Linked DNA regions of Homo sapiens: region 1 is linked to region 2. Evidence: fine-mapped expression QTL. A gene starts in region 2. The other region holds a variant in brackets. All regions are shown on one strand. Distances are between the middles of the regions. Region 1 overlaps TMEM163 (transmembrane protein 163). Region 2 holds the start of TMEM163 (transmembrane protein 163).

Evidence for each region. PIP is the estimated chance that this variant, and not a neighbour inherited with it, causes the effect.
Region 1: its variant is the best candidate, but not a certain one, in a credible set for the expression of TMEM163 in thyroid (GTEx, PIP 0.73).

What each region holds. Positions count from the first base shown.
Region 1 is chr2:134,688,733-134,698,124 of GRCh38, reverse strand. The region is part of intron 2 of TMEM163 (transmembrane protein 163); the gene reads left to right. Among named protein-coding and RNA genes, the nearest start is that of TMEM163, 26 kb to the left of the region's middle. The variant C/A (reference allele first, on the strand shown) is at 4,393.
Region 2 is chr2:134,715,084-134,724,475 of GRCh38, reverse strand. It overlaps TMEM163 (transmembrane protein 163), which reads left to right and starts at 5,476. Exons shown (of 8, transcript NM_030923.5): 1 at 5,476-5,742. The coding sequence starts at 5,541. LOC105373629 (a long non-coding RNA gene) reads right to left here and starts at 6,364. Exons shown (of 2, transcript XR_923354.4): 1 at 5,909-6,364; 2 at 1,952-2,074. RefSeq lists an enhancer at 2,251-3,450 and a silencer at 5,153-5,392.

The sequences.
Region 1 (9,392 bases), 26 kb after region 2:
CGTAGAGTACACAGGACAGCCCCTCACAGCAAAGAATTATCTGGCTCAAAATGTCAGTGGTGCCCATGGTTGAGAAACTCTGATCTAGGCCAGCAGTGGCTTTATGAGTGCTTTTATGAATGTTCAAGGATCAGATAATCCCAATCTCATGCACTCCATTCTACAGAAAAAGAAGGAAAGCTTCCTATATCATTTTGGGACTACTACTACTGTGATACCTAAATCAAAGGCAACAGAGAATTTATAGGTCAGTATCACTCATGAATATAGATACAAAAAGTCTTTAATAAGATATTTGCAAACTAAATCTCATTGTGTTTATATAAAAATAAATAAATAAATGAACATGCTCACCACATGTGTTTATTTTTGGAATCTAGGATGATATAATCAGAATGTTTATTATGTAATTTACCATGTTCATAAAAGGTCAGGAGTTCGAGACCAGCCTGGCCAACATGGCGAAACCCCGTCTCTACTAAAAATGTAAAAATTAGGTGGGCATGGTGGCAGGCACCTGTAATCCCAGCTACTTGGGAGGCTGAGGCAGGAGAATCACTTGAACCCGGGAGGCGGAGGTTGCAGTCAGCTGAGAGTGCACCACTGCACTCCAGCCTGGGTGACAAGAGTGAAACTCCATCTCAAAAAAAAAAAAAAAAAATTGAGAAGAAACCTATAGTATCTCTCAATACAAAAAGCATTTGGTAAAATTCAAGACAAGATAAAAACTTTTAGCAACCAGGCTGGGAATTGCTGATAAAGGTTATTTAACCTAAAATATTAATTGTAACTGGTAAATTAGGCAGACTCAGCCCATAAAAATCTAAAATGAAGATAAGGACGTCTGCTGTTACCACTTCTCCTTATTATTATACGTGATGTCCTACCCAGTATAGTAGGGCAAGCAAAAGAAAGAAAGGTACTGTATATGGATTGGGGAGGAAAAAAGTAACCATCATTGCTTGTGGATATTATAGTTTACATAGAGCTTTATAGATATTATAGTCAATATAGAGCTTTCCATAGCTCTACATAGAAAAGCTAAGGGAAGCCGGGCATGGTGGCTCACACCTGTAATCCCAGAACTTTGGGAGGTCAAGGTGGGCAGATCACCTGAGGTCAGGAATTCGAGACCAGCCTGGCCAACATGGCGAAATCCCCTCTCTACTAAAAATACAAAAATTACCTGGGCATGGTGGCGGGTGCCTGTAATCCCAGCTACTCGGGGGGCTGAGGAAGGAGAATCGCTTGAACCTGGGAGGTGGAGGTTGCAGTAAGCTGAGATCATGCCACTGCACTCTAGCCTGAGTGACAAGAGCAAAACAAAAGAAAAGCCAAGGGATTCTGCAGATACTATTAGAAGTAAGAAATTCCAACAAAGCTGCTGGGGATGGGTAGAAGTTTAATATACTAAAATCAAATGTATTCTTATATAATAGCAACACAGCAATACATTTTTAATTTTCATAATGATGTCATTTCTCATAGCAACAAACCAAAAGGAATAAATCTAATATAGGTATAATTCCTTCATGAAGAAAATTATAAAATGCTATTAAAATGATAAAATAAGATCTGAATAGAGAGAAATCTCATGTTCAGAGCTGGGAAGACAATCTAATAAGGATGTCATTTCTCCTTATATTAACCCTAATACATGCAATTTCACTAAGAATTCCAATAGGCTTTTTCCAGTGCAGTTGGTAAGCTCTGAAATGTTGATGGAGGAATAAAGGGCTAAGAATAGTCAAGATAATTTTCAAGAACAAGGTGCATATATATCTCAAAACTTCTAAAACTAGGGCAGTTGAGATTGTGATATTTTTAGGAACAAATAGACCAGGAAAGTTGAATAGGGAGTCCAGAAATAGTAACCACATATATGGAAATTGGATATGTGAGAGAGGTAGCATCACACATCAGGGAGGGAAATAATGATACCACCACAATTGGCTGTCTATATGGAAAAACTAAAATAAGTTTGTACCTCCCACATATACAAATATAAATTCCATGTGATTTAAGAAACTAAACCTGAAAAGAAAGAATTTAAACCTTTTTTTTTTTTTTTTTGAGACGGTGTCTTTCTCTTGTTGCCCAGGCTGGAGTGCAATGGCATGATCTCGACTTGCTGCAACCTCCGCCTCCTAGGTTCAAGAAATTCTCCTACCTCAGCCTCCTGATAGCTGGGATTACAGGCACCCACCACCACGCCTGGCTAATTTTTTGTATTTTTAGTAGAGACGGGGTTTCGCCATATTGGCCGGGCTGGTCTGGAACTCCTGACCTCAGGTGATCTGCCTGCCTTGGCTTCCCAATTACAGGCATGAGCTACCATGCCCAACCAAAACTTTTAAACAATAATATGAGACTCTCCATTTGACCTGGAAGTAAAAGAAAGGCTTTTGAATTTAAGACACAGAAAGCACAAACCATGAATAGAAACTTCAAAAAATTTAACTTCAAGCTGACTAAGAAGAACTTTGGGCACAGAAAACACTATATAAAACAACTGTATCTTGGTAATAGCTCTTCTGGGTTAACTTTTTTCAGGTAAAAGGTAGTTTCATGTCTTTCTAGTTCAAGAAAACTACAGTTTTTATAGTATTTGTTCTGTTCTGTTGCTTTGATTTAATTCCTTAGGGATTTATAATGTATGTGTATGTTGGCTCTTTTTTGCTTGTCATTTTTATCTAGTATTTTTTTCCACATCATTTTTATTTTTCATTTCTTTTTGATTAAAAATTTGCCCGGGCACGGTGGCTCACGCCTGTAATCCCAGCTACTGGGAGGCCGAGATGGGTGAATCACCTGAGGTCAGGGGTTCGAGACCAGCCTGGCCAACATGGTGAAACCCCATCTCTACTGGAAATACAAAAAATTAGCCAGGTGTGGTGATGGGCACCTGTAATCCCAGCTACTCAGGAGGCTGAGGCAGGAGAATTGCTTGAATCCGGGAGGCGGAGGTTGCAGTGAGCCGAGATTGAACCACTGCACTCTAGCCTGGGTGACAGAGCGAGACTCCGTCTCAAAAAAAATTTTTTTTTCCTCCTTTCCATCATTTAGTTCTCTAAAAGTATTAGCTTTGTTATTGGTTTTGCTATTTTAGTTTTTCTGATGTCTTTAAGGAGGAATTCAGGGAAATAAAAAAACTTTCACCACCAGTTTTTTTCTTTCCAGAAAACCGTGGAGTTTGTATTTCTTTTTACCTGGGTTCCTTTTACATTATGCTTTTATTTATCCCGGGAGATTTCTGGCATTCCAGTTAATTATACTTAGAGACATTGTAGTATTTTTAGATGTCAGTTGATCTTTGTTCATTTGATAAAGTACATTTTCAAAATGGAAACTTTCTGCTATATTTTTTAAAGAATAATGTGTGTATATAGTCATTTTGTGAGAGTTTGGATCTAATCCCAGGTTATTCTTCAGTGTGAATGAGGAGATATGGTATCAGAACTGAATAGATATTTATTACAGAGTAATTGATGTACCAGTCTCCTGAAAGGAGAAGCTTAAACTTTACATGTCCCATAAAGAGAGCATTCTTAGGGAATGAATTCTGCATTACAAAAGATGGCCATTTTTTTATCCAAAGCAAGGACAGATGTGATTTATTTCTGGTGAAATAAGTTCTTAGTGGTAAGTAAATCTCAGTACCTTTAAGTGATAAAGTCACCATGATAATGACACTAGTCCTTTAGTTCTCCAGTATGGGCAGTGCCATTCTTCCCAGATGCCATCATTAGAGATTCGTTACCCTCTTTAGGTCAATTCCAATAGTTCTTCAGCTTTTGTTTGAATACTTCTAGTACTGGGATTCTAATAACTTAGCGAGACCCAGTTTATGTTGCCCAGTCCCAATTTCAGAAAGCTTTTTAAATGGTTAATTGAATGGTTTACCTTTTTCTAACTCCTCTTTTATAGTCATTATTTTCTTAGCTAACACTTAGCAAGCACATAGTATGCTGGGCACTGTGCTAAGTGCTTCCCACAGATCACACTTCATTCTTGCAACATTGCCCTGAGGTAACATTATCATCCCCACTTTGTAGATGGGGATTTTAAGACTCAGAAAAGTTAGGGAGCTTTCCTAAGTTTCCAAGCTCATAAGAGATAGAGTATTCACACTCTGCCCTACTTGACTCAGAGCCTCTACTCTCAACCATGGGACCCATCTCCATTGTTCACAAGACAGATCTGCAGTGCGAGCTTATTGTGTTGTTTTGTCACCTCTTCCAAAGACTGAACATCCCCAGACTCTTCAGCTGTTCCTCATGTAGGAGGAAACCCACTCTCCTGGCCAACCTTGTCTGGACCTAAAGGTGTCCTGTTTAAAGCAGTGCCCAGAGGTGTCTTCTAAGTCATGTCATCAACAGAGAATATAGTAGA[C/A]CTGCTATCTGACAGGTATGGAATTCACAGTAATTCCTACCAAAGCAGGTCAAGGTTGATTTGTTTTTAAAAGCTCCATCATGCTGTAGGCTCAGTTTCAGGTTTTTTTTTTTTTTTTTTTTTTGATGTAGTTTTTGCTCTTGTTGCCCAGGCTGGAGTGCAGTGTTGCAATCTTGGCTCACTGCAACCTCTGCCTCTTGGGCTCAAGCAATTCTCCTGCCTCAACCTCCTGAGTAGCCAGGATTACAGGCACATGCTTCCATGCCCGGCTAATTTTTTTCTATTTTTAGTAGAGATGGGGTTTCGCCATGTTGGCCAGGGTGGTCTCGAACTCCTGACCTCAGGTGATCCACCCGCCTTGGCCTGCCAAAGTGCTGGGATTACAGGCATGAGCCACCACGTCTGGAAAGGTTTCAGTTTTTGATCACCTACAATTGCTGGAGTTTTAAACCAATGTTAAAATTTATTTTTTTAAATGTCTTACTCTTCAAGCAGGGCCCATATCAGTATCTGCTAATACTCAAGGTTTCTGGATGAAGAGGGAGAGTAAAGAGTTCCAGAGCCTAGAGGGTGGGGAGGGCAGAATCTCTAAAAGAAATAAGGGATTAGAGACAAAGCAAGGGTTCTGTGGCACTGTGGAGGCTGAGGCACAGGGGGGTCCAGAGATGTCTTCAGTGTGAAGATGCTGGGTTATGGCCTGGCAGTACTTTGGGAAGGAGACAACTGATGATCAGTTGGAAACCTGCAACTGGAACGTGACTGAGGTGCTGGAAGAAAGATGGATTTGGGAGTGTTTTGCTTTAGGGCAATGACTGAGGCAATGTGGTGGATGGGTGAAGTAGCCTGGGATCATGAGGAGGAGAGAGGAACTGCTTTGGACTGAATTGTATTCCTCAAAATAAATATGTGAAGCTGTCACCCACAGTGTGATGGTATTTGGAGGGGGAGGCTTTGGGAGGTGGCTCAGTTTACACAAGGTCATGAGGATGATGAGGTGATGAGGGCAGGACTCTCGTGATGGGATTGTGCACTTATAAGAAGAGACACCAGAGGGCTTGCTTCTTCTCTGCCTCCACCCTCTGCACTGAGGAACGGCCGTGTGAGGACGCAGTGAGGAGGCAGCCATCTGGAACCCACGGGGAGCCCTCCCCAGACACCAACCCTCCCAGCCCCTGGATCTTGGACTTCCAGCCTCCAAAGCTGTGAGAAATAAATTCATGGTGTTGAAGTCCCCCAGCCTGTGGTATTTTGTTATGGCAGCCCAAGCAGACTAAGGAGGGGAAACGGCAAAGGACAGAATTTGGAGAATGACTTCTCTTGGGGTAGGAAGATGATAAGGAACTAGTGGAAGACATAGAGGTCAGAAAAGTTGAAGGGAATGTATTCATTTTCTCTGGCTGTTGTAACAAATGACTGCAAACTTGGTGGCTTCTAATAACAAGATCTATTTATTCTTTCACATTTCTGGAGACCAGAAGTCCAAAATCAGGATCGCTGGGCTGAAGTGAAGGGTCAGCAGGGCTGTGCTCCTGCAGAGGTGTAGGGAAGAATACTTTCTTTGTTTCTTCTGTTCTTGGTGGCTGCTGGCATTCCTTGGCTCATGGGCATATCACTCCAGTCTTTAAGGCTGGCATCTTCAAATCTCTCTCTACTTCTCCCTGTGTCAAATCTCCCTCCACCTGTCTCTTATGAGGACACTTGTGATGGCATTTAAGGCCCACCTGGATAACTCAGGGTCATCACTCCTGCTACGGTTCTGAAATTAATCACATCTGCAAAGATATCCACTGCAGCCCCTGCCTCAATCCTATTTGTTGCTTATTAAGGTAACGTGCACAGGTTCTAGGGATTAGGATGTGGAGCAAGGATTGTACAAGGATACAGAAAGGCAAATACAACACTTCAAGAAGGTGTGACCAGCGATGTTACATGCCAGCCAGGGTCAAGGCTGAGGAGACTGTTCATTGGAGTTGGTGTTTAGGATGTCACTTTGTGACTCTGCAGAGAACATTTTGTCAGAGTGGTAAACAAGGAAGCCAGGTTGCCAAGAGATGGGCATGAGCATTGGAGAAGGAAAGGGACTGTCAGCATAGTGCTGTCTATTGGAGAAGCCTGGCGGCACCTAGGGTTGTCTGACAAGGGTGTACGTGCGCATGTGTGCATGTCTGTATGAGCATGTGTATGTGTACATGCACGTGTGTGTGTATTTACAATAGAGTTGTTTGGAAATACAATGAATAACATTCATTTTCTCTTCCCAAGTTCAGAACCAGAGAGGAGTCAAACAGAGGGAAAGCAAAATATCAGCTTCATGGCTGAGAAACCCGGATTGGAGAATGGGGCTCTCAGTACAGCCACAAGGGCTTCTTGATGTTTGGTGCCTACGCTAGGCAGACTCAGTGACTTGACTGCTCCTCCAGGGACACGGGTCTACTTGTGGAATGACAGGTGCTGACTTGAGATCCCCTTTTCTGCAGAAGGCCAGCAGCAGAGAGATGAAGAGGGGGCTTTGCTACCCTTGTTCTTGGAACTCACCAGGCATTTTGATTTCTCCCCTGTTCTCCCCAAAGTCCTGCTCTGGGAGAGTTGGCTGCTCCCTGCTGAGGCCCTCACTGCTGTTTGTATGAACCACTGCCCTCCTATTTCCCCAGTGATTGGCAGAGTGCCTCCCCCACCCCTGACTACCATTCCCGCCAGCCACACTGTGAGCGCCTGGAGTGTGGGACCTGATCTCCTCCGTTTTGTCACCCACCCCTGGGGCACCGATTGCCTGGACCAGGTAGATGGGTAGTCAGGGTTTCTTGAATAAATGAATGAGGAAGTTGTCTCTCAAAGTCGTTATCCAGGGCCCTGTCTTTACTTTAGTAGTGTATTTCCGTTTCACTGATATTTGCATTTTGCTAGTATTAGGCTTTACACTGGTGGGAATGGCCACAACTGTGATTATACAAGGTCTAATTAGTCAGCCTTGAGAATAGCTGTGTAAAGAAAGCCAAAGTCATGAAGTTCTTAATTGTGTCAGAGGGAAGGATTGGGTTTTTTCATAGTTTGCTCAAGGCTCTGAAGAATTCAGTGGCTTTTCTTGTGGTAAATGAAATCCATCCTTCACCTTGATTTGTGACTTTTCTCCTTTATAAATTGCCGATATAGGCTGAGTGCGGTGGCTCATGCCTGTAATCCCAGCACTGGGAGGCTGAGGCTGGCGGATCACTTGAGGTCAGGAGTTCAAGACCAGCCTGGCTATCATGGTGAAACCCTGTCTCTACTAAAAATTAAAAAATTAGCCAGGTATGGTGGCACACACTTGTAATCCCAGCTACTCAGGAGGCTGAGGCAGGAGAATTGCTGGAACCCAGGAGGTGGAGGTTACAGTGAGCCAAGATCATGCCACTGCACTCCAGCCTGGGCAACAGAGTGAGACTCTGTCTCAAAAAAAAAAAAATTGCTGATGTAGGTAAAGTTTGATAACTTGATGGATATCCAGTGTATATAAATGCAAAGAGGCCGGGTACGGTGGCTCACCCCTGTAATCCCAGCACTTTGGGAGGCCGGGGCGGGTGGATCACTTGAGGTCAGGAGTTGGAGACCAGCCTGGCCAACATGCCGAAACCTTGTCTCTACTAAAAATACAAAAATTAGCCAGGCATGGTGGTGCGTGCCTGTAGTCCCAGCTATTTCAGAGGCTGAGGCACGAGAGTTGCTTGAACCTAGGAGGTGGAAATTGCAGTGAGCCGAGATCACACCACTGCATTCCAGCTTGAGTGCCAGGGTGAGACTCTGCCTCCAAAAACAAACAAACAAACAAACAAACAAACAAACCGCAAAGGAGCAAGTTGACTTTTACTTTTGGGCTCTGCATGCCGTTCTTTGGAGAAACCACATTTTTGATGGGGACCTATATTTGCTTGGGTGTTTATTTGAAATAAAGTTAAAATGTGTAACTTTGTGGTACATTTGGCTGTTAAAATTTAGGAAGCCATAACATTTGGTCATAAAAGCACAAGCTATTAGTTTTTCTAACTGTATCTTTTCCTCTGAACTCATTCATGTGCACTAGGGAGAGATGAACTGTGAACGTTTCCCCCACCTCTCTCATCTTGTTTTCCTCAAGGAAGCCCCATCCCTGAAGCAGGCCTCCCTGGAAGTTTCTGGACCTCTGAGTTCCTTTGAGTGGCAGCAGGCCTCTCAGGAGTGGGCAGTTGGAGAGGATGTCACAGTGCTAGTCATTTGGGGAAGTGAGCTGAGTCCCTAGACCAGTGCTGTCCAATAGAAACAAAATATAATTCTAGTCACAAATGTGACTCTCATGTGTAATTAAAAATTGTCTCCAGGCATGGTGGCTCATGCCTGTAATCCCAGCAGTTCGGGAGGCCGAGGCAGGCAGATCACCTGAGGTCAGGAGATTGAGACCAACCTGACCAACATGGTGAAACCCCATCTCTACTAAAAATACAAACTTAGCCAGGCGTGGTGATGCATGCCTGTAATCCCAGCTACTTGGGAGGCTGAGATAGGAGAATCGCTTGAATCTGGAAGGCAGAGGTTGCCGTGAGCCAAGATCATGCCATTGCACTCCAGCCTGGGTGACAGAGCGAGACTCCATCTCAAAAAAAAAAAAAAAACAAAACAAAAAACTTAGGCACTCCATTAAACAAAGAAGTAAAAAGAAACATAAAATTAATTTTGCTGATATTTTTATTTATCCCAGTATATCCAAAATATTATACTTGGTAATAAAATATAAGAATTATTGAGATATTTTACATTCTATTTTTCATGTGAAATCTTTGGAATCCAGTGTGTGCTTTACACATGGAGTACATTTCAGTTTGGACTAGCCACTTAGCCACGTTTCATGTACTCAGTACCTACATGTGGCTAGTGGATACCATAGTTCCAAAGAGAGTGTGCGTGTGTGGTAGCAGGGAGGAGGGAGTGGGGCGGTGTGTCTGAGTCCTGAAAGGAAGATAATCTGTTGCTTAGTATTATAAGACATTAGA
Region 2 (9,392 bases):
TGGGAAGTTACTCCTGCTCCCAGTTCATCCCCTCCAGGCAGGCTGTCTCTCTCCCTTCTTACCTGCTTTCTGGTGTTTCTTGTTACTTCTCTATTGAATCCCGACATTCTCTCTTGGATGGTGTATTCAAAGTATGACTGTCTATACACACTAAGTGGAAGAGGTGGGCATGAAATGCTTCTAATCAGCTGTCTTGAAGCCCTTCCTCAGCTTTCCTTTTTTACAACAGTTTTAGATTTGCATAAAGTTGAGAAGATTAGAAAGTTCCATGTACCTTGCACCCAGTGCCCTCATTACTAACATCTCACATGAGTGCACTTTTTTTTACAACTAATAATTGAGACCTTACTAACTGAAGTCCATACTTGATTCAGAATTCCTTGATTTTTACCTAATGTCTTTTTTTTGTTCCAGGATTTCTTCCACAATGCCATATTTCAGCTAGTGGTTGTGTCTCCTCAGGATCTTTTGGCTGTAATGGTCCAGTCTCCCTTTTTATACCAACTGTTTTGTTTGGTTATTTATTTATTTATTTATTTATTTATTTATTTATTTTTTGAGACAAAGTCTCGTTCTGTCACCCAGGCTGGAGTGCAGTGGCACAATCTTGGCTCACTGCAGCCTCTGCCTTCCAGGTTAAGCAATTCTCCTGCCTCAGCCTCCCGAGTAACTGGGATTACAGGTGTGCACCACCAGGCCTGGCTAATTTTTGTATTTTTGGTAAAGACAAGGTTTCACCATGTTGACCAGGCTGGTCTCAAACTCCTAGCCTCAGGTGATCCTTTTGCCTCGGCCTCCCAAAGTGCTGGGATTACAGGCGTGAGCCACTGTGCCTGGCCCCAACTGTTTTACATTATTCACTATTGTGATTATGAAATTAATTCATGGCTAATGCATATACACATAGTTGAAAAATCAATATAATGACCTAAATTATAATAGAGGAGGAATAAAATAAAGTAATACATAATTAATATTTAAATGCTCACTCAGAGCTACACCAGAGGTCACAAATAAGCAGTCAGATATTTGTACCTATTTATAATTTAAGAACAGAGAGTCAGGCACTCTGGAATATTTTTTACACTTTTTCTTTAAATTGCTGTTATTTTGAAACAGGAACTAAAGAAATATACACATATGAAATTACTGGGCTTGTGGGCATCATATATGTGTTGATTGCTGAAACAGATAACATGAATGGAACTGGCTTCTGTGTCCTGATTTTCCAAAGTGGTAAAAAGAGTACCATCCCTTCCTAGACTTATACAGTAGTTGCATTTCCAGAAATTCCTGTGTGTATTCACAAGATGCAAAAACATTTTGTGTTTATATGTAAAACAAAGTTAAAGTTCCACCGTAATTCGATGCACATTTCAACTGAAGCAAAGGTCAGGTCTGACAAATGAAAGCCATGTGGGACACAGACCAATCTCCTGCATCTGGGGCCACCCCCAACTAAATGTCAGTGGCCCCCTCCTCCCATCATTGTGATGACCAATGAAAGTACCTGCAAATTTCCAAAATGCCCCCTAGCGGGCAGTACCCCTGTGGATTATGGTGGTGGGCAGAGGTCGACAAGGCAGATCGGCCTTTGTTTGTTCATCTGTGAAATGAGGACAGTAGTAGCTGAATGAGGGAGACAATGCATGTAAAACACTTAGCTAGGTACCCGGCACATGGTATGTCCTCCAAAAATGTAAGCTAGTGTTATCTTCCAGTTAATCAGCAGAGATTGTTTGAGGGGACACTGTGTCCCCGATGCCCAGGTAGGTGTTTGTAAGGAATGCACATCAGGCAAGCACCACTATCCCTGCTCCACACATGAAATAAATGGTGAATTATTAATCAATTACAGTTTAGAAAAAGGAGCACCCAAAGGGGAGCTGGAGTCAGAGAAATCTTTCTGGAAAAGACAATAGTGGCTTGTTTAACCAGAGCAGCTGGAACATGATGGGAAATATATTTATTCCATGAATAACAAACAACTCCTAGATCCTTGCTTCTCAAAGTGTGGTCTTCAGATATGCAGCATCAGCAGCATCGGGAGGTTTGTTAGAAACAGCATCTCAGCCTGGTGGAAAACAAACAAAAAAAAGAAACTTTTAATCTGAGGAATGCAAGCCCCTTTACATTATCAGCCCCAGAGACTTACTGGAATGAAACAGCAGCAAGTGACAACCATTTGAGTGAAATAATGATCTCTAGAAGCCACTGACTATGTGGGCTCTAGACTAATTTATGCCAAATAGCCATAAAATGGCCATACACTGGACACCATAACTCCTACCCGACAGTTCAACAATCTATAGCCAAGTTATCTCTGCAAACCAATGAGGATTCCTGTCACACAACTTTATATCGGCCCTCTCTTTGTTCCCTTTGCCTTTAAAAACCTGCTTATAACAAAGGCTAATGGAGCACTCCTCAAGGCAACTTAGAAACGTCCTGGGTAGCTGTCCTCATTTGGGCTCAAGCAAATTCTTTCAATTATATTTTGTGCCTCAGCCTCTTCCTTTTAGGTTGACAGCCTCTATCCCAGACCAACTAAATTAGAATCAGCATTTTAAGAAGAATTGCGGATGTTCATTGCCACGCTCACCTTTGAGATGTGCTGGACTTACAGAACCAACTGAGGAACCAGAGGAAAGAATAATGATACCAGTTCCTTTGGTGAGAATCTGCTGCAGACCGTGTGTGTGTGTATGTGAAGGGCACAGAGCTAGATGGTCCATATTGTGGAGAGTAATCATAAAGGGTGGTTGCAGAATAATTGACATCAGAATGTGTGTTGGAGGCCGGGGGGCAAGAGGGGTTTAAAGGAAGGTTCCCAGCCAGATCCCAGATCTATTGAACCAGAATCTCAGAGAGCCAGGGAGGAATAATTTTTTTTTTTTGAGATGGAGTCTCGCTCTGTCGCCCAGGCTGGAGTGCAGTGGCATGATCTCAGCTCACTGCAAGCTCCGCCTCCTGGGTTCATGCCATTCTCCTGCCTCAGCCTCCTGAGTAGCCGGGACTACAGGCACCTGCCACCACGCCCGGCTAATTTTCTGTATTTTTAGTAGAGACGGGGTTTCACCATGTTAGCCAGGATGGTCTCGATCTCCTGACCTTGTGATCTGCCCACCTTGGCCTCCCAAAGTGCTGGGATTACAAGCGTGAGCCACCACGCCCAGCCAATTTTTTTTAAGCCCCCAGATGACTCTTAGAATGGGGAAGTGCCTTACAAAATACCCATGCCAAGGTCCCAGCCAAGAACGATCACGTTAAATATGATATCAGAATCTCTAGCAGTCGAAGCTTCGGTATTTTTGTTCTTAGACTCCCCAGGTGATACTTTGAGAGCCATTGACAGGGGGATTAAATGGGATAGACTGGAGGAAAAAAGTGGAGGAGATGACTCTGCAAATATATCTGAAGGATGTTCTACCTTAGAGGATAGAACCAGGATTAATGGGTAGAGATTTTCATTGTCTTTATCCAAGTAATCATAGCATTTTTCTTTTTCTTTGCAGCAGGAAGGGATCTTTGAAATGACGTAGTTCAACTCTTTCAATTTGTAGTTGAAGAAATTAGTGGTCAACAAGGTAAAGTAAGTTGGTCAAGGTCAACTCAGATCTTCTCATTCCAATCCAGCAACAACAATAATAACAGCAGCAACAAAATAAAGTAAGACCCCTCTCCCCATTTCTGGTGATATTTCCAGTGCACCACAAAGGCATTTAAATCCTACTCTCATTTCAATCACAAGCAAAGCAGACAAGAAAAAGGAAAAGGGTGACTCTTCAAGAAACGAGGAGGACTCCTTTAAATGAGGAATTGACATTTTGGAGTACCCGGATTAAATTCAGAGACTGAATCAATCTAAAGACGAAAGCCGGACTCTAGAGCTTGGATGTTGATACCATTGAAACGGTAGGGGCAGAAAAGGTGTGATACTTTCCTCCCCATCATAAGGGGCACGGCAAACATGCTTATAACAAAAGATAGGCTAATAAGAGAAAAGCGTAACAAATTTATTGAATCAAAGTTTTATGTGATACAGGAGCCTTCAGAAATGAAGATGCAAAGACTCAGGGAAAACTGCCTGTTTTTATGCTTAGATTCAGTGAAGAATGGACAGCCTTATAGAAATGTGATTGGACAAAGGGTGTGATCTAATGGTAATAGACTGAGGGTTGAACCCAGCGAGGCCTGTTCAGATTCTTCTTGGCCTCTCTGTGCAGCATGTATAGAGCAGGACCTCTTCTGGAATGAGGGTCTCAGGATCTACTATCAGACAAGGTAGGTCTGAGTATTTCTTCATGGCCAGCTCCTACACAGAAAGGCAGAGGACCAGGGAGGTTGGAGTACTATTTCTAGGTTGTATGACCACCGTAGGGAAGAGGAATTCTGGTTTCTGTGAACTGCTTAGTGGGGAGAAAGTCGGGGGGGAGACAGACTTTGTTTCTAAGGCGGCTTCAGAGGCCTGTTTAGTTTTTTAGTTCAAACTTAGCATACCAAAGTGCCATACGTTGGGGTATACTTTTCTGAGCCTCAACAAATCCAAGCTGAATTTATTAAACAGCAGGTCCTCTTTTGCTCCTCTCTGGGCATCAAGAGAGCTGGCGTGTGCCCTGCGGTGGACTCTCACTGGTGAGATCAGCCCCACCGCACAAAATGAATTAAGAGCTGCAGGGGTCAGAGTAGGGGAGACTTCTCGTAGAAGGGAGGCTTCCATGGATTTCTGAAGATCACACAAGACTTAGATGAGCAGGGGAGCGAACTGTATGGGACAAAGGCCCAGGAAGAGTCGAAATGGGGAAGCCTCGGAGTTCAAGCATCTTCTATAGCGCCCGCTGTCCTAAAGATACCCCATCCCTGGCTAAATGGGTGCTCCAGGGAGAAACTGGGAGGGGAGTTAAAGCTCCGAGAAGGACGGAGAGCGACGGGCTTGGGGACAGATGAACCCTTTTTCCCTGGATGAGCAGTGAGAATGGAGGCCCAGGCGAAGACCCTGTACAGCCTCTGAAGCCTGTGCAGCTCCAGAAGAGAAAGATGCCAAATTAGGGGCGCTGTCTGCTACCCACGCGCGGCCGCGGGCTTCGCGGACCCCAGAGGAATCCAGTGGGAGGGGTCCCCTCTGGGCACCATCCCGCGGCGCAGGTGGGGCGGGTCCCCGCTACGCCCTAGCCAAGCTCTGCCAGGGCCGCCTGTGGGTCCTCACGCTGGTTCCTCCCTCTCGTCCGCCTCGGTGCGCCGGCTCCCGCGCCCGGGCCTTGGGGCGGGTCCCTGCCGCCCGCACCTGCCCCCAGGGGCGGAGCGCGGCGGCAACAACGCGGCCCCAGCCTCCGCCACCGGCCGCGGAGCCGAGCGGCTCTCCGCTCGTCCCCGCCCCCGCCCGTGCACCTCCACTCCGCGGCGCCCGCCCGCCCTCCCTCCCTGTCCACGCGGCCAGTCCGTCCGCTCCTGCCCCCGCCAGAGCCGCGGCGCCTCGCACTTCTGACTCGAGTCCCCGCCGCGCTTGTCGTCGCCGCCGCCGGGATCCGCAGCCCCGCGCCATGGAGCCGGCCGCGGGCATCCAGCGCCGCAGCTCCCAGGGGCCCACCGTCCCGCCGCCGCCCCGGGGCCACGCGCCACCGGCTGCCGCCCCCGGCCCGGCCCCGCTGAGCTCCCCGGTGCGCGAGCCGCCCCAGCTGGAGGAGGAGCGGCAGGTGCGGATCAGCGAGAGCGGCCAGTTCAGCGACGGGCTGGAGGACCGAGGTGAGCGCGAGCTGCCCGACCCGGCCGGCGACCGGGGTGGCTGCTCGGGGCCCGCCTCTCCCCACTCGCGGGCCGCGCTGGGCGAGGCGCGGGGCTCGGAGCGCGCGGGGGCGCGGAGCCCCGACTTCCCGGCGAGAACGCCGCTAGCCGAGAGCGGCAGCCCCACCTTCTGCGGCCGGCACCGCCTCGGCTGCGGTTCCTTCCCTCGAAGCCCAGACCCCAGCTGCCTTCAGGCCGACCCCGCCTGGACTCGCGCCCTCCTCTCCGCCAGCTCCAGGCCCTCCGGCGCCCACGGGAAAAGTTTGCGGGAGGCATTTTTTGCGTTCGGAGTCGAGCGCTTCTGGGCCACTCCGGGCCCTACTCAGCTCGGAGGGACCCAGGCTCGTTGCATCCTCCTTTCCGTAGTCCCCTGCGGCTCCGCCGGCTGCCTGGGAGAACTTCCCTCTGCGGGTGTAGCCGCGAGATGTCCCTCGGCGGCCGCCCGGCTGCCCGCCCCGGCGAAGGGCGCAAGGAGGGGAGCGAGCCGGGACTCGGGCGGCCTCTGGTCTCGGGCAGTCCCCGATTCTAATCGCGGACGCGGGTCACAGTGGGTCCCTGCCCCGTCGTCTCATGATGGGGCAGAGGAATGGGACATTTGGATTTGGGCCACCAACCTCATCTGGATGGATGCCACTGAAACCTGATGTTTCCGGAGGGCGCGTCTGCAGACCCTTCAGAGCTCCCCTCCACTGACACTGGCCTGGAGGTCAGCACACTTGCCTCTGCTGGGAGACCACACTCTGCCTCCCACCGACTGCCGATGCCCCCTTGAGTCGCCAGTGTAGGACGGGAGAGACTCCCTGCTCGTTCCCGCGTCTCTCTTCTCCATCCCTTCCGCGTTTCCTTTGGGCTTGGATTCTTTGCAGAGGGAGCCCTGTTCTTGGCCGCGTCTGCACCTTTTCTACTTCTTGCTGAATCCGAATCCAAATTGTCCCCCTCAGAACGAATCTGTGGTTCTGCTAAAACCGTTTAGTGGCCAAAGAGGGATTCTTGCAGCCAGGCCCTTTAGGGGAAGCCGGCTCTTTTGCACCTCCACCCCCTTTTCTTGGAAGCCTTATTTTGTTGGCTATGGCGGGTTTATATATTTTAGACTTAGCAGGTTTCTGTCCTATTCTTAGTATCTCCTGTACATTTTTATTCCGGTTTAGTGTTCGGATGCACGATCTCTTTCTCCTTAGAAATTCTAAACTGTAGCATGTGAAATAAAATGACATGGAAACGGCAGTTCCCAGAGAATCCGCCTAGATGCTCAGCGAGAACTGGAGCTGCTCCAGTGGCAACGAATTCTGCACCTCTGTTGCAGTTTCTCCCCCTGTTCTCACATAACTAGATGCCATTTAAGAGGTGAGGACAGGGGACATCACGAGCATGGAACAAAACCTCTCACTTTTATTATAGGATGTGTTCATTACCTTTGCCCCTCTCCAGCTAATATCGTAGGATTTAAAAATTCCATATTGAAGAAAGACAGAAGCCTGGGTTGAGCTTATTTTTGTAGCATTGCAGGTCATCTCTAAGAGCTGGCCTGTTTCTCCCTACCCCACAAAATGATAGGAGGGAAGACAGTGCTAGGGTGAGTTCATATTTAGCATCATTTTGTAGTTCATGTTCAAGTGTAAAAAGCCCTTCTGAATTCATTCTTAAGGTTATTTTTCTCTGGTCAACGGAATTTCATTTTCCATTATATGATAGCATGAAAGCATTGACTGTTCGTAAACTGTCACTGTTTGAGAGCGTGGCATATCACACACAGCCTCTCTGTTAGGATGAACCCTATTCGCCAAAGAACCCGGTGCTGTGTGGCATTGAGAGCTGAACGTCAATGTGACATTCTTTTGTTTGACCTCTTCCTGATGGCAACCAGTATGTGGTGAATAAGTGATTTTTGTTAAGTAAACGAGAACGTTACCTGGGGAGGTTTACTGTAAGATTTTGTGTTTGTTGTTTCTGTTATTTTTTTTCTTATGGGGCTGCATTTTTCCAATATTGATTTTTATATCCTTTGGGAATGGGTTGAGTGCAGCTACCTCTTTCCTGCTGGTGAGAGGAATTGGGGAGGAGGAAGCCCCAGCACTTGCCTGCCGTGTGTCTCTGCATCCTGCCTGGCTTGCTTTCTTTCAGGCCTAAATACCTATAGGCTGTCTGTAGAGGGGTTGAGGGGTACCTCGGATCTGCACCTGTATTTGGCATTCTCTTTTGTCCTAACTCCCTTTGGAGCTATCAGGATGTGGTTCCAGACCACAGTTAACTCTCATCAAAGGTTTGCTTTAAAATCTAGTGTTTTGAGACTTTGGAGGCATTTGCGCCTTAGAAATGATGTGGGCTGGTTCTCAGAAACCTAGCTAGCTCAGAATGTCAGTAACTGCAGTGCCATCTGGTTGAACTTAAAGCTCAGGGAGCAAGAGCTCTGTGGCCTAAGACCTTTGGGGACTAAACACAAAAATTAGGCCAGGTTTATCTTAATCATTCTTCCCATCCCCTTTGAATACCTATTCTTCTCCCTACAAGTATTTTCCCATCATTCTGTCCGTAACCTTAGGGCCCAGCTTAGCCTTAGGTAATTATATGTGTCAGCATTTCCCAGTACTTCCCCATCTAACAAAATTTCCCTTTCTTCACAGAGTTCAAGCTTGACAAACTTAGGAGAAAGGAATTGGAACTAATGCATACTAGTGTAGAAATAACTGATGGCTTCAGCCTCTCCATATGTATTTGTACCTTTCCCCTCTCCAAAATAAATAAAGGATCAGTCTCTCATTAGTACTATGCTTAGTATTCCCAGGCCAAAATTGCAAATTATGAAATTTGAGTGAGTTTAGAAATTCAAATATGGGGGCCAGCTATGGGTAGGGAGGATCCAGCCCTGCCTGCAAATCCGAGGCCTGTCGTAGCTTCTCTAGGCTGTCCTGTCTCTTCAGCCTGGCTTTCTTCCAGCTTTAAAGCACAGCTTCCTGAAAACATTAGGAATTCTCACTACATCTTTGTAACTTGTGAGTGTGCCTGCATCCAACATGAGTGTGGAGGTACCTGTGTGTGGAACATTCACTAGGAACTGAGTCTTTATACATCATCATACTACACTTCCCCTTGAGGAGTGCAAAGTTTTCCATTCTTAGGATCGGCTATATTTTTAGAAAGGAAAATCAGCAGAAAATAAGCAAAAGTTGAATAGAAATGGGAAAGTCCTTCCATTTTTGGACAGTCTTCCCATTGTACTTATTCCATTTTATTTTTTAATTTTAAAAATATCACGGAGGAGGCACACACAGGCCCAGATCTGGGGAAGAAGTACTGGTCGTAATGCTGAGAAGTCCCAAGTGCCACCTTAGCGGGACAGTCCAGCTGTCCTGGGCTGTCATCTGAAACTCCTCCAGGGGGGTGCTGTTTCACTGGTGGGTGAAGCATGTAGATTGGTCCACATGTGTGGTCAGGACCAGTTATATTATTGAAACTAGCTGACTTTGGATGGAAAAATAAATGTTATGCGGCTGAAGAGAAAATGGGCATCATTGTCATTCCTCTTAGAAAATGAAATCTACTTCTCAAAGGAACCTTGTTTTTACCTCAGTGGATGACAATCTGGAGATTGTTGCTGTCAAAATACCTAGCAA